Homo sapiens: one gene and its partner. The protein of the gene in region 2 interacts with the protein of the main gene of each other region in a pairwise test. Each region holds a gene or a part of one and is shown on either strand. Other genes may lie near its edges.

Region 1 (5,116 bases), on a different chromosome or scaffold from region 2:
CCTCCAACTCCTCCTGCCTCAGCCTCCCAAGTAGCTTGGGACTAGACGTATGCACTTCCACACCCAGTTAATTTTTTACTTTTTTATATAGACAGAATCTCCATATGTTGCTTAGTCATGAACTGCTGGGCTCAGGCAATCCTGCCATGTCAGCCTCCCAAAGTGCTGGGATTACAGGTGTGAGCCACCATGCTCAGCCTAGCCATTCTTTAAATAGAGAGAGGTAATAAGAGAAGTAGCATGCTGTGTTCAGAAAAGTTTTTCACCTGGACCCATAAACATGAATTTGCAAACATAAACTTGGGAGGGGTTAACCTCTCCCAATTTCCCATGAGTAAAGAACAAGATTATTCATGAGGAAAGGACTGTATGGTGTGCCTGAATCTTTCAACTTCAGGAAGACATGGTTTTCCTGAAGATGACCTCAGTTTCAATTGGCTCAAGGATTCCCACCGCTTCTCCCCACTCTTCCCAGAACAGCAAGCACTCCCATGTAGAAGCGACAAGAAAATGCAGCTGAGGCAGGGTGCAAAGGGGAGGAGGAAGCTTTGCGGTTATGATGAAGGAACTCTATTTCTGCGGTTTGATGAGAGAGGAGGGAGTCTATGCCTGCCTGATTTCGGCTCTGCTGGAGGGCACACTGAAGATTATTCCAAGAGGCACGTTTTGGGGAAGAGGGAAAGAAGAGTCATGGTCTTGTCTGTTTTCCTTACCCCCCACTGTCTTACCAGATCTCACGTGTTACAGAATAAATAAAAGCTCCTAAAGTAAGTTGTGAACCACTAGTCCTTAAGGTACCCAAGTAATGCGGGGGTAAGTAAGTGCATGCGTTATCCTGCTTTCAAGGTCAAAGCAGCACCAGATCACAGCAGCACACCTAACGCAATCCTGCCACTTCAAAGCCTGTTACTGACCATCGCTGGTCTCAAGTCAAGCTTATATCCTACCACCTGGGGAATGGCACACACAAGCAGGTCTGTGCTGCAGTAACAGCTAATTCTGAGGTGAAGCTGCAGTGAGGAAGGTCACATGCTTCTTACCGCTATGGCAAGACACGGAACTACTGCAGTGTGAGTGTCAGCTCATTTCTTGGTGTCTGCTGGAGCCACAAGGGGATTGCTATTGCACATACAGTGTGAAGGGAAGAGTAAGCTCCCTACAGTACAGGAAACGCGAGGGGAGAAGCATGAGAGCACAGAAAACAGCCTTCCATGAACAGCCAATGTGAGAGAGTGGTGAAGTGGGAAGCACAGGCAATGAGGATGGGCAGTCATGACAGTGAGTGACTCAATCTAGAAAGCAAGCATATCACATGCATGGGGATTGTCATCCTGTTTGAACAATTATTGCTTGGTGAGCTTGATGTGAGAGACAATCAAAACAAAAAACAGAAATAATCACAGGGGAGCAGAGCTGTCAAAAGCTAAATACAAGAAGCTCAGGAGGCGTGACCATTGCTTATCCACAGAGCTCATGCTGGGAGACACACCTCTCTAGTCTGTCGCCCCTGATGCTGCGAGGCCCCTTTAGAACGAAATTTCACTTTTCATTTTACCCTACATTACCTAATACAGGATTCTCTATGAGGAAAGAGAAACCATGAGGAAGAGTCAACCATACAGCTAAACCTTCACGTTCTGGCTTCTGTATACAGGCCTCCCATTAAAGAATGAAACAAACCTATCATTTTCTGACCAGAAATTAACTCCTAAGAAAAGGAGACTTGACTATAAAAGATGTAGAAAGGCCTTTGAGAGAATATGCTAACTTCTTAACCTTTTTTAGTTCTTCTGAAAAGCCCTAATAAGTAGTATAGACTTACCCCCAAGATTCATTTTTAAATTTCCTCCTGCCATTATAATACATTTCCCCTATTCCCACATCACCAGATCCTACTAACAATAACCTATTATGAACCATAACTTACAGCCCAACATCCCAAGTACAGAATTTCCCTGTTGACCCTACCTACAACACTGTAAGTGGCCTTCTCATTAAAGTATGAGAAGCCACAGTCTAAGAAGACAAACTCTAGAAAGTGGTGTTTTTCTCCTCGTCAATCTAGCACACATCTCCCACTTCAGTGTGAACGTGGGAGGGCATGGACTTTTGTATGCTTTCGTCACTGCTGAGTTTCCAGTTGGGGTAATAACACTGCCCGGCACATATTTGCTGACCAAAGGATCGCTCTCCCATAGGAACTAGGCATCCCTGACCTCCCTATATATACCCATGGCCATTACCAATCCATGTCTGTCACAAGCTAGGCTCACATGGGGTTATCACTGAGGGCACCGACTAGGAGATGATTTCTCAATTAAGCATGTTAAATATTTATTAGAATAGGATACAGAGATAGATGGAAGTTAGGAATCAGGGAGCTATGAGACTGCAGAGTTGAAAGAACTCATGGTTAACAGGCTTTGCAATCAAGGACCAAAAATAACAGAAAAGATAATTACTACAGAGCTGGTTGCAAGGACAGACTTTTTTCACCATCTTCCCTGAAGCACAAAGAGAGAAGCAATGTGTTAAAGATAAAGAAACATCAGTGTAAAATATTTAGAATCTCCAAACAGCACACAAACGCCCAGCAAGAGAAAGCAGGAGGTGAGACAGATAGGTAGGACCTGGTAGCCCTTGAACAGATATAGTTCTACAGAATGTTTCGAACTGGCTGTTAGCCTTAACATGATTATCTGATGGGCTGTGTTACGTGGCTGACAGATGTGGAGTTTCTACACCCAATCTTTGTATCTAAAAGAGTAATGCCCTGCACTGAGGTTCTGGAATTGGCGAGGAACTCCAGTCTCTCAGGTCTCACTGCTTGAATTTCAAATACCCAAGCAGCGTTTCCACTGATCCTGTCCCACTTCCTGTTTCTCCAGCTGGGCTGTTAAAAAGCACTCAGTTAAATGCATTAGCAACCCCACCACAGTAGACTGATAGTATCACTGTTACAGCTTTAAGTTCATTTAAATTGGCTATTATATTTCCACATCCCACATATATATACTAACCCCTTCCCTTCCAGAATAGTTTTTAAAAGTACGTGGAAAACAAGCAACCTCTGAACATAAATATAGCAGTAAGCCAAGCCGTGCTTCCAAACCATTATCTATTTTGAGAGCATAGAATAATACATCTCAAGCTAGTAAGGTGCCCTACTCTTTCAAGTACCTGTTTCCTTTCCATATTTCAAGTATGTCTCTTGGGATTTGTTTACCAGGCTTACATGATGTATCCTGATGTGACTTCTAAGGATGTAGGGCCTTTCATTTTGCACCCAAAGGGAAGTGACAAGATTCAATATTTCTGACCACTTTCATTTGAACAACAGGGGTAATACCACCTACCTTTAAAAGTGGGATGAGAATTTATGGAATTTAATTAAAGTGGTATTTGTCACATTATATTTCAGAAACAGAAGCTTTGGTTCTCTTTCTTCCCTCTCAGACACTTCAGGCTGTAGACCATAGGCCTGACATGTCACATTCTACTTCAAAAACACCCCCCTTGCAACTTTCTAGGTGGACATGCAAATTAAATGCTTATTCAACTGTCAAAGTGCTAATATGCACAGTCCAGGAAAGTCTGACCAGAAAAATTATTGATCTGAGTCCTCAAAAAAAAAATCACACAAGCCTGGAAAACGATCGAATTGGGTAATGCCTTCCACCCGCTTCTTTGTTAAACAGCCTGGGACTAGTGCATGTGGGGAAAGTCAGTAAAGACTGCCTCTCAAGTACAGCTAACTCATTACTAATACAGGTACAAATAATAGGGGTGCTGGAAGGAGCCAATCCATTTCTAATGCAGGTAAAAATAACAGGGGTATGTGTGAGGGAAATGGCAGTTAAACGTGTCATATGCTTCGCTTTAAATCTAGTCACTACAGAGAACAAAGGGAGGTTGTAAATTCTTCCCACCGTGAAGAGGCCCAAGGGCCTCTGACCCATACTCAGAAACAGTGATGGCCTGAGCACATGCATGTAAAAAGCACTTCAATAATCACATCAGAAGTTTGAGGCCTTAACAGAGAAGATCTTTATTCAAATTATAACAAAGGTTTTTCTACTTGAACTATGTTTTTGTTTGTTTTAAACTGTTCTTCCACGAACAGTTATTGACTACCTGTTCTGTGCCAGGTAGGCACTGACTCATCAGAGAGAAACCATGAGTGCTTTTCAAGCGCTACCTGTTTCTCTGTACATGATCTTAGCTTGATTTGTACGATGGCCCTAGGACACTGGCATCATCTCCATTTCACATATGGGGAAGATGGGGTGACTTGCTATTGTGCCTTGTTTTTAAGTAGAAAGCTGCAAAATCCCAGAAATCATGTTAGAAGGAGAATTTTCACTTGCAGATGCTGGGCTTTGATCTTTATTAGACTAAGTGCTTTATCAGAATAACCAAACTAAAAACCGCTTTTGATTTTATGGGGTTAGAGGACAGTAGTGGTGGAATGATCCAATGAAGAGATCCTAGCATCTTTTCAACTGGTAGCTGCTTAGGCTTAATAGAGAAGAAAAATAAGATTTCAATCTACTCTGACAAAGAATGGAAAAAAATGGTACATAATTTTTACCTGCTGCCAGGATCTAAGAGCATCATTGGTCAAAATGCTTTCTTCATTTCGTTTCTTTTTTTTGAGATAGAGTCTCACTCTGTCGCTCAGGCTGGGGTGCAGTGGTGCAATCATGGCTCACTGCAGTCTCAACCTCCTGGTCTTAAGGTGGTAATCCTCCCGCCTCAGCCTCCTGGGCAGCTGGGACTATAGGTGCACACCACCATGCCAGGCTAACTTTTTTTTTTTTTTTAGAGATGGGGTATCACCATGTTGCCCAGGGTTGGTCTCGAGCTCCTGGCCTCAAGCAATCTTCCCGCCTCGGCCTCCCAAAGTGCTGGGATTACAGGTGTACGCCACCGTGTCTGGCTGATTTCTCTCATTTCTAATGCTAGGGCAGACAGACAGCACTGACTACGACTGTGGAGTTCAGTCTTCATTATTCTAAATGACCCAGCAATCTATTGCCTAGATACCATATCCACTCTCTGTCACAGATCCATGAAGAAGCACTTCTACCAGAAAGTTACATTGAAATTTGTAGAT
Region 2 (5,116 bases):
AAAACCTCTTATACTGGCATTTTAAGCCAAATTTCTTAAAATTAAATGCTTTATGACAAGTCACTTTATTCATATAAACACACACTTCCCCTCCATGGTGCTGATGACTTCTGCGAGTCCACAGCTGAGCAGCAATCCAACTTCAAAAAGCTTACACACGTGGAAGCATTTGCCCAGAGACTATAGTTACATTTCAAAAAAACAATTTTATATAAGGCATTCCAAACAAAAAAAGCTGGTGTTAGTGCTTAAAAGAAACCAGAAAAAGATCCCCCCCACAACCCCCAAAAAAGTGATTAAAAGGAACATTTTACCTTAATGTTCTAACTAAGGTCATACTTGGGCAAACTAAGACACTTGGAAGTCCTATGGAATTTTTCTTTTTAAATTTTTTGATTATGCTGCATTTGAAGCCTCTTAGAAACCAAATTTAAAACTGATTTTAACAATTGCAGCTTACGTTTTCTATTTTGAATTTTAAAGTACGCTTATAGATCACATGGTGGATCAGGCAAAGGTTTAAGAAAAATACACAAGTTTACCCCATTACGTTCGTAGCATACACTCCCTGTTGGACTCTGACCCGGGGCAGCTGGAGATTTACTCTCTAAGTTGTGAGGAACAGCGCACACAACCTACCAGTCAAAAAAAAAAAAATTTCCATTGCTAATCATTTCAGGAGCAGCACTGTGCAATATAAACTGAATTTTAATATCCTCTATACTATATACAGGGATGCATTTTAATATGATCCACAAGAGGATGTCATGCTGCCAAGTTTCAAACTTACAGTATGTAAATTGACTGTAAGCATTGACTCAGGGTTATATGTAAAAACCCAATTGAGTCTTGACCATATTTTTATTTCAGGTCAAGAAATGCCAGTGCTTTTGATTAATTTTAAAATAGTAATCTTTATATACTATAGCTCTCTTTCGTGCAAACTGAGGAGATGGGGAGAATCTTCCTTTTCTAATGTGAAAGATATGCAAATGCAGGGCCCTAAAAAAACACAAAGCATCAAAGTCACTAACTTGTCCATTCATTCGTTCTTCAGGGAGGATTTCTTGTTTTATCTTCACCAGTTTAACAGCAATGGGTTTCCCAGTCCGTCGGTCCGATGATACTTCAAATTCAACATCATCTAAAAATAAATAATGTGTTATGTTTGTTGAACTGATTTTTGCGAAACGATATATTGCTTCCAAGCTATACTTAACATAGCATTTGAATTGCCTTAGACCAGTGGTTTTCAAAGTGTGGTCCCTGGACCAGCAGCATTAACATCACCTGGGAGCTTAAAAGAAATACTGGGCCTAACTCTAGTCCTAGCCAAAGACAAACTCTGGGGATCAAGTATAGCAATCTGTGTTTTAACAAGCCTTCCACTAATTCTGATACACACAAATGTTTCAGAACCACCATCTTATGCTAAGATAGCCATGTCTTAATCTTAGTTTTTATGGCATTTACACATACTACAAATGAGATGACTTAACAATCATAACCTTTGGCGAGTTTTTTTTTTAAACTCCTCTGTACCTCAGTTTTCTCTTATGTAAAAGGAGAATAATTCCTAACAGGACTGCCATGAGGATTAACCAAAACAATGTTCCTATAGCATGCATCTTGTTAGCTATTATACTGACTCTTTTCTCAAACGTTTTTTAAAAATGCACAGAGGCCTCATAATTTCAGTCCTTTAGTAAGCCAAACACTTCACATGTAAAAACTTTTTTTTTTTTTTTTTTTTTTTTTTTTTGAGACAGAGTCTCCCTGTCACCCAAGCTGGAGTGCAGCGGCACGATCTCAGCTCACTGCAACCTCTACCTTGCGGGCTCAAGCGATCCTCCCACCTCAGTCTACTTAGTAGCTGGGACTACAGGCACATGTCACGTTCCTCAGCTAATTTTTGCATTTTTTGTAGAGATGGGGTTTTGCCATGTTGCCCAGGCTGCAAGCTGGTCTTGAATTCCTGAGCTCAAGCAATCCACTTGCCCTGGCCTCCCAAAATGCTGGGAATACAGGCATGAGCCACCATGCCAGGCCTGTGAAATAATTTGTATGGTGTCAGCCACAATGAATTTCCATATAATCTAAGAGGTGACTTTTTTTTTTTTTGAGACGGGGTCTCGCTCTGTCGCCCAGGCTGGAGTGCAGTGGTGGCATCTTGGCTTACTGCAAGCTCCGCCTCCCAGGTTCACACCATTCTCCTGCTTCAGCCTCCCGAGTAGCTGGGACTACAGGTGCCTGCCACCACGCCCAGCTAATTTTTTGTATTTTTAGTAGAGACGGGGTTTCACCGTGTTAGCCAGGATGGTCTCTATCTCCTGACCTCGTGATCTGCCCGCCTCGGCCTCCCAAAGTGCTGGGATTACAGGCGTAAGCCACCGCGCCCAGCTTCTAAGAGGTGACACTCTAAGGATTACTTTTTTCAGGTACTACCCAAAATAGTACCTGACAGAATAATCATAAGTAACATTACAAAAGTTCAATATTCGTACTGGCTTAAAATCTTACGGGTAAACAGTCATCATTATGGGGAAAAACAATGAAATCTTCCAAGCATTTATTGTAAATATATGCAAATATAATCTTTCAAGGATTCTGCTGGTTTATACAGATATTCTTCACTAAACAGTACAACTAAAAGTCCAAAATGTTTTAATTTACATAAAACTTTTTGAAAAACACTCATGAACAAATTGATATGCAAGACAAATTTTGTGATTACATTTTTACAAAGGAGAACTGACAGATTACCTCCTACTTTTAAGTCTTGCAGGTTGCCATTATACTGTGAACAGTGGAAGAAAAGTCTAGCTTGACGTTCTGAACACTGAATAAATCCGTAAGAGGTTAACAGTTTTTCAATAACCCCAGTTTCACGCAGTGCTGCTGAAGTACCATTAGGGTACCCATTATGTCCATTGTTGTGGAGAAGGTTTGGATCAAAGCTCATCTGTTTTAAAAAGAAAAAGAATATATACATATCTGTACATTATCTCCATAGCATATTAAGTCTGGTTAATAAGTCACTAAATCTTCCATATAAAAACGCAAAAAAAAGTAAAATGAAGGGAAGATTATAGACTTTATTACTGCAGCATTAATTTAGCTAATAAAACATTTCAGAGGAAACAACTTATTATATTGGGGAATTGCCCCAAATTATGGTAGAATTTCCACTTATCAGACAAAAATAGAATTTCTGGGGTTTAATATTAAGGTATAGCAACTACATTAGCAAATGCTGCCTTTACATGAAGTGAAAATTACTAAAACAACAATTTCAGAACAAAGGTAATTAATATTAAGAGACAGCGACCACAAACTACCAAAGACTCTTAAGAGATTTGGTAACGCTATTTTGAAACTTCAGCCAATACCTTAATACTGTTTAGTAAGTCATGCATTTGGAAGGCATATTTCAAGTTAGTAGAGATTAACACAATAAAATGAACTTTCTATGCAATACTTAAACTAGAAAATTTCAGAGTAATTCATGCTTAGGTCCTTTAATGAAAGACTATCCAAAATAGTGCAGTAGAAAACTTCTGAAACAACAAAACTCCAAGACAGCAAAAGCATTTCCATTTTAAAAATGCTGAATCATTTCACAGGTACATTTAAAGAAATCTTTACCTAAAAGAAACCCTTCACTTTTTACATACTGATGAAATCTGTAACTATCACTTCGTTCCCATTCTTTAGTGAAATAGGAGCTATTTAAAAGCAATATAATGGAATCTGCCTAGGTCATAAAATACTATCACATTGGATGTTCCATTTCCCTTCTTTGAGTAAAACAACAAAAACTATAAGTGAAGCACAAAACAGGACGAAATCCTTAGCAAAGCCTAGGTCTATAATTTACCACAGTAATGACATTTCTAAATCATTACAATTATGTTTTAGACCCTTTCACTGAAAATCTGATTTATAAGTATTTCCATTTAAGTGGAATGTTGGGCATTATTAATAAAAAGGATATATTTTCACTAGGAAAAAAGAGTAACAAATTCTAGAAAGATAAACCAAAGTTTGAGTCAACGATATGTGTGATGGTCAAATCACGTAAATCAAAGCCACCACACCTGTAGGTGGTTACGTCCTAATTCTTCTACACTAGCCACTGTTCTGTGTTTAACATATATTAACTCATTTAACTTTCACAAAAGCCCACAAGAAAGTATTGTATTCGCCTCATTTTACCAATGAGAAAACAGACACAGAGAAGTTAAATGACTTGCCAAAGTCAAATAGTAGAAGATTCAAACCAAGAAGGTCTGGCTGTAAACCAGGGCTTCTCAAATGAGAAGTTAAAATATAAAATCAGACTCAGTAGGTATGGGGATTTGAAATTTTCCATCTTTATTAAGATCCAAGGTGATAATAATGCTTCTGATTCTTAGATATACTTTGGGCAGTAAGACCCTAATCTACTGAAGTTATCTTTCAAGAGTGAAGGTGAAAAAAATGATTCGGGAAGTTAGAAGGTGAGTCGGCAAGATATTTCAACCAGAATGAGTGGCAATCCTAGGTCATGCTCTTAACACAAAGCAAGGTAAGCTGAGATGACTGCTTTCCTGACTTACAGATCTCTGATAAGTTGGGGTCCTCTTTTGTTTTTTAGTCCCAGATGAGGTAGAAGATGAAGATAAGGGTAAAGAAAGTGAAGGAGGGGCTGCAGGAGAGGGATGAGGATCTGATGACACAGTAAAAACGTTCTCCATCTCAAACAGCTGTTATAACATAGCATAATGTTGATAACTATGATCAATAACAATTTAATGCACATTTCACAGTCAATATATATTTTTAGCTTGGGTTTAGCGAAATATAAATTAGATTTCTATTGACAGGAAATACATAGAATTAACATTACTATAAAAGGTGAAATGTATTTTTTTTAAAGCCATTAAAACATACGATGACATCAACAATTCTGAAAATGCCACAAAGACTCTTGATGGTTGTTGGAGTGAGACTATTCAGTCCAATTTCTTTTCAATGCCGATCAACTTTAAATAGAACCTATCATTTTTAGTCACTAGTCTCCCTAGAGTACACACTGATAACCCAATGGGGTGCAGAAGAAAATAACTGGGACTAT

The links. Proteins that work in one complex are often made in the same cells at the same time.
Region 1: the proteins of CSDE1 (region 2) and WNK1 interact in a two-hybrid assay, tested with the Homo sapiens proteins (one large-scale study listed by BioGRID).

Annotation. Positions count from the first base shown.
Region 1 is NC_000012.12:901,841-906,956, reverse strand, and holds part of WNK1 (serine/threonine-protein kinase WNK1), read right to left. Parts: intron 1-5,116. UniProt on the Homo sapiens protein: Serine/threonine-protein kinase component of the WNK1-SPAK/OSR1 kinase cascade, which acts as a key regulator of blood pressure and regulatory volume increase by promoting ion influx.
Region 2 is NC_000001.11:114,736,929-114,742,044, forward strand, and holds part of CSDE1 (cold shock domain-containing protein E1), read right to left. Parts: intron 4,746-5,116; exon of another isoform or gene 4,737-4,745; coding exon of another isoform or gene 4,599-4,736; intron 2,963-4,598; coding exon 2,764-2,962; intron 1,145-2,763; coding exon 1,035-1,144; intron 636-1,034; coding exon 543-635; intron 1-542. UniProt on the Homo sapiens protein: RNA-binding protein involved in translationally coupled mRNA turnover.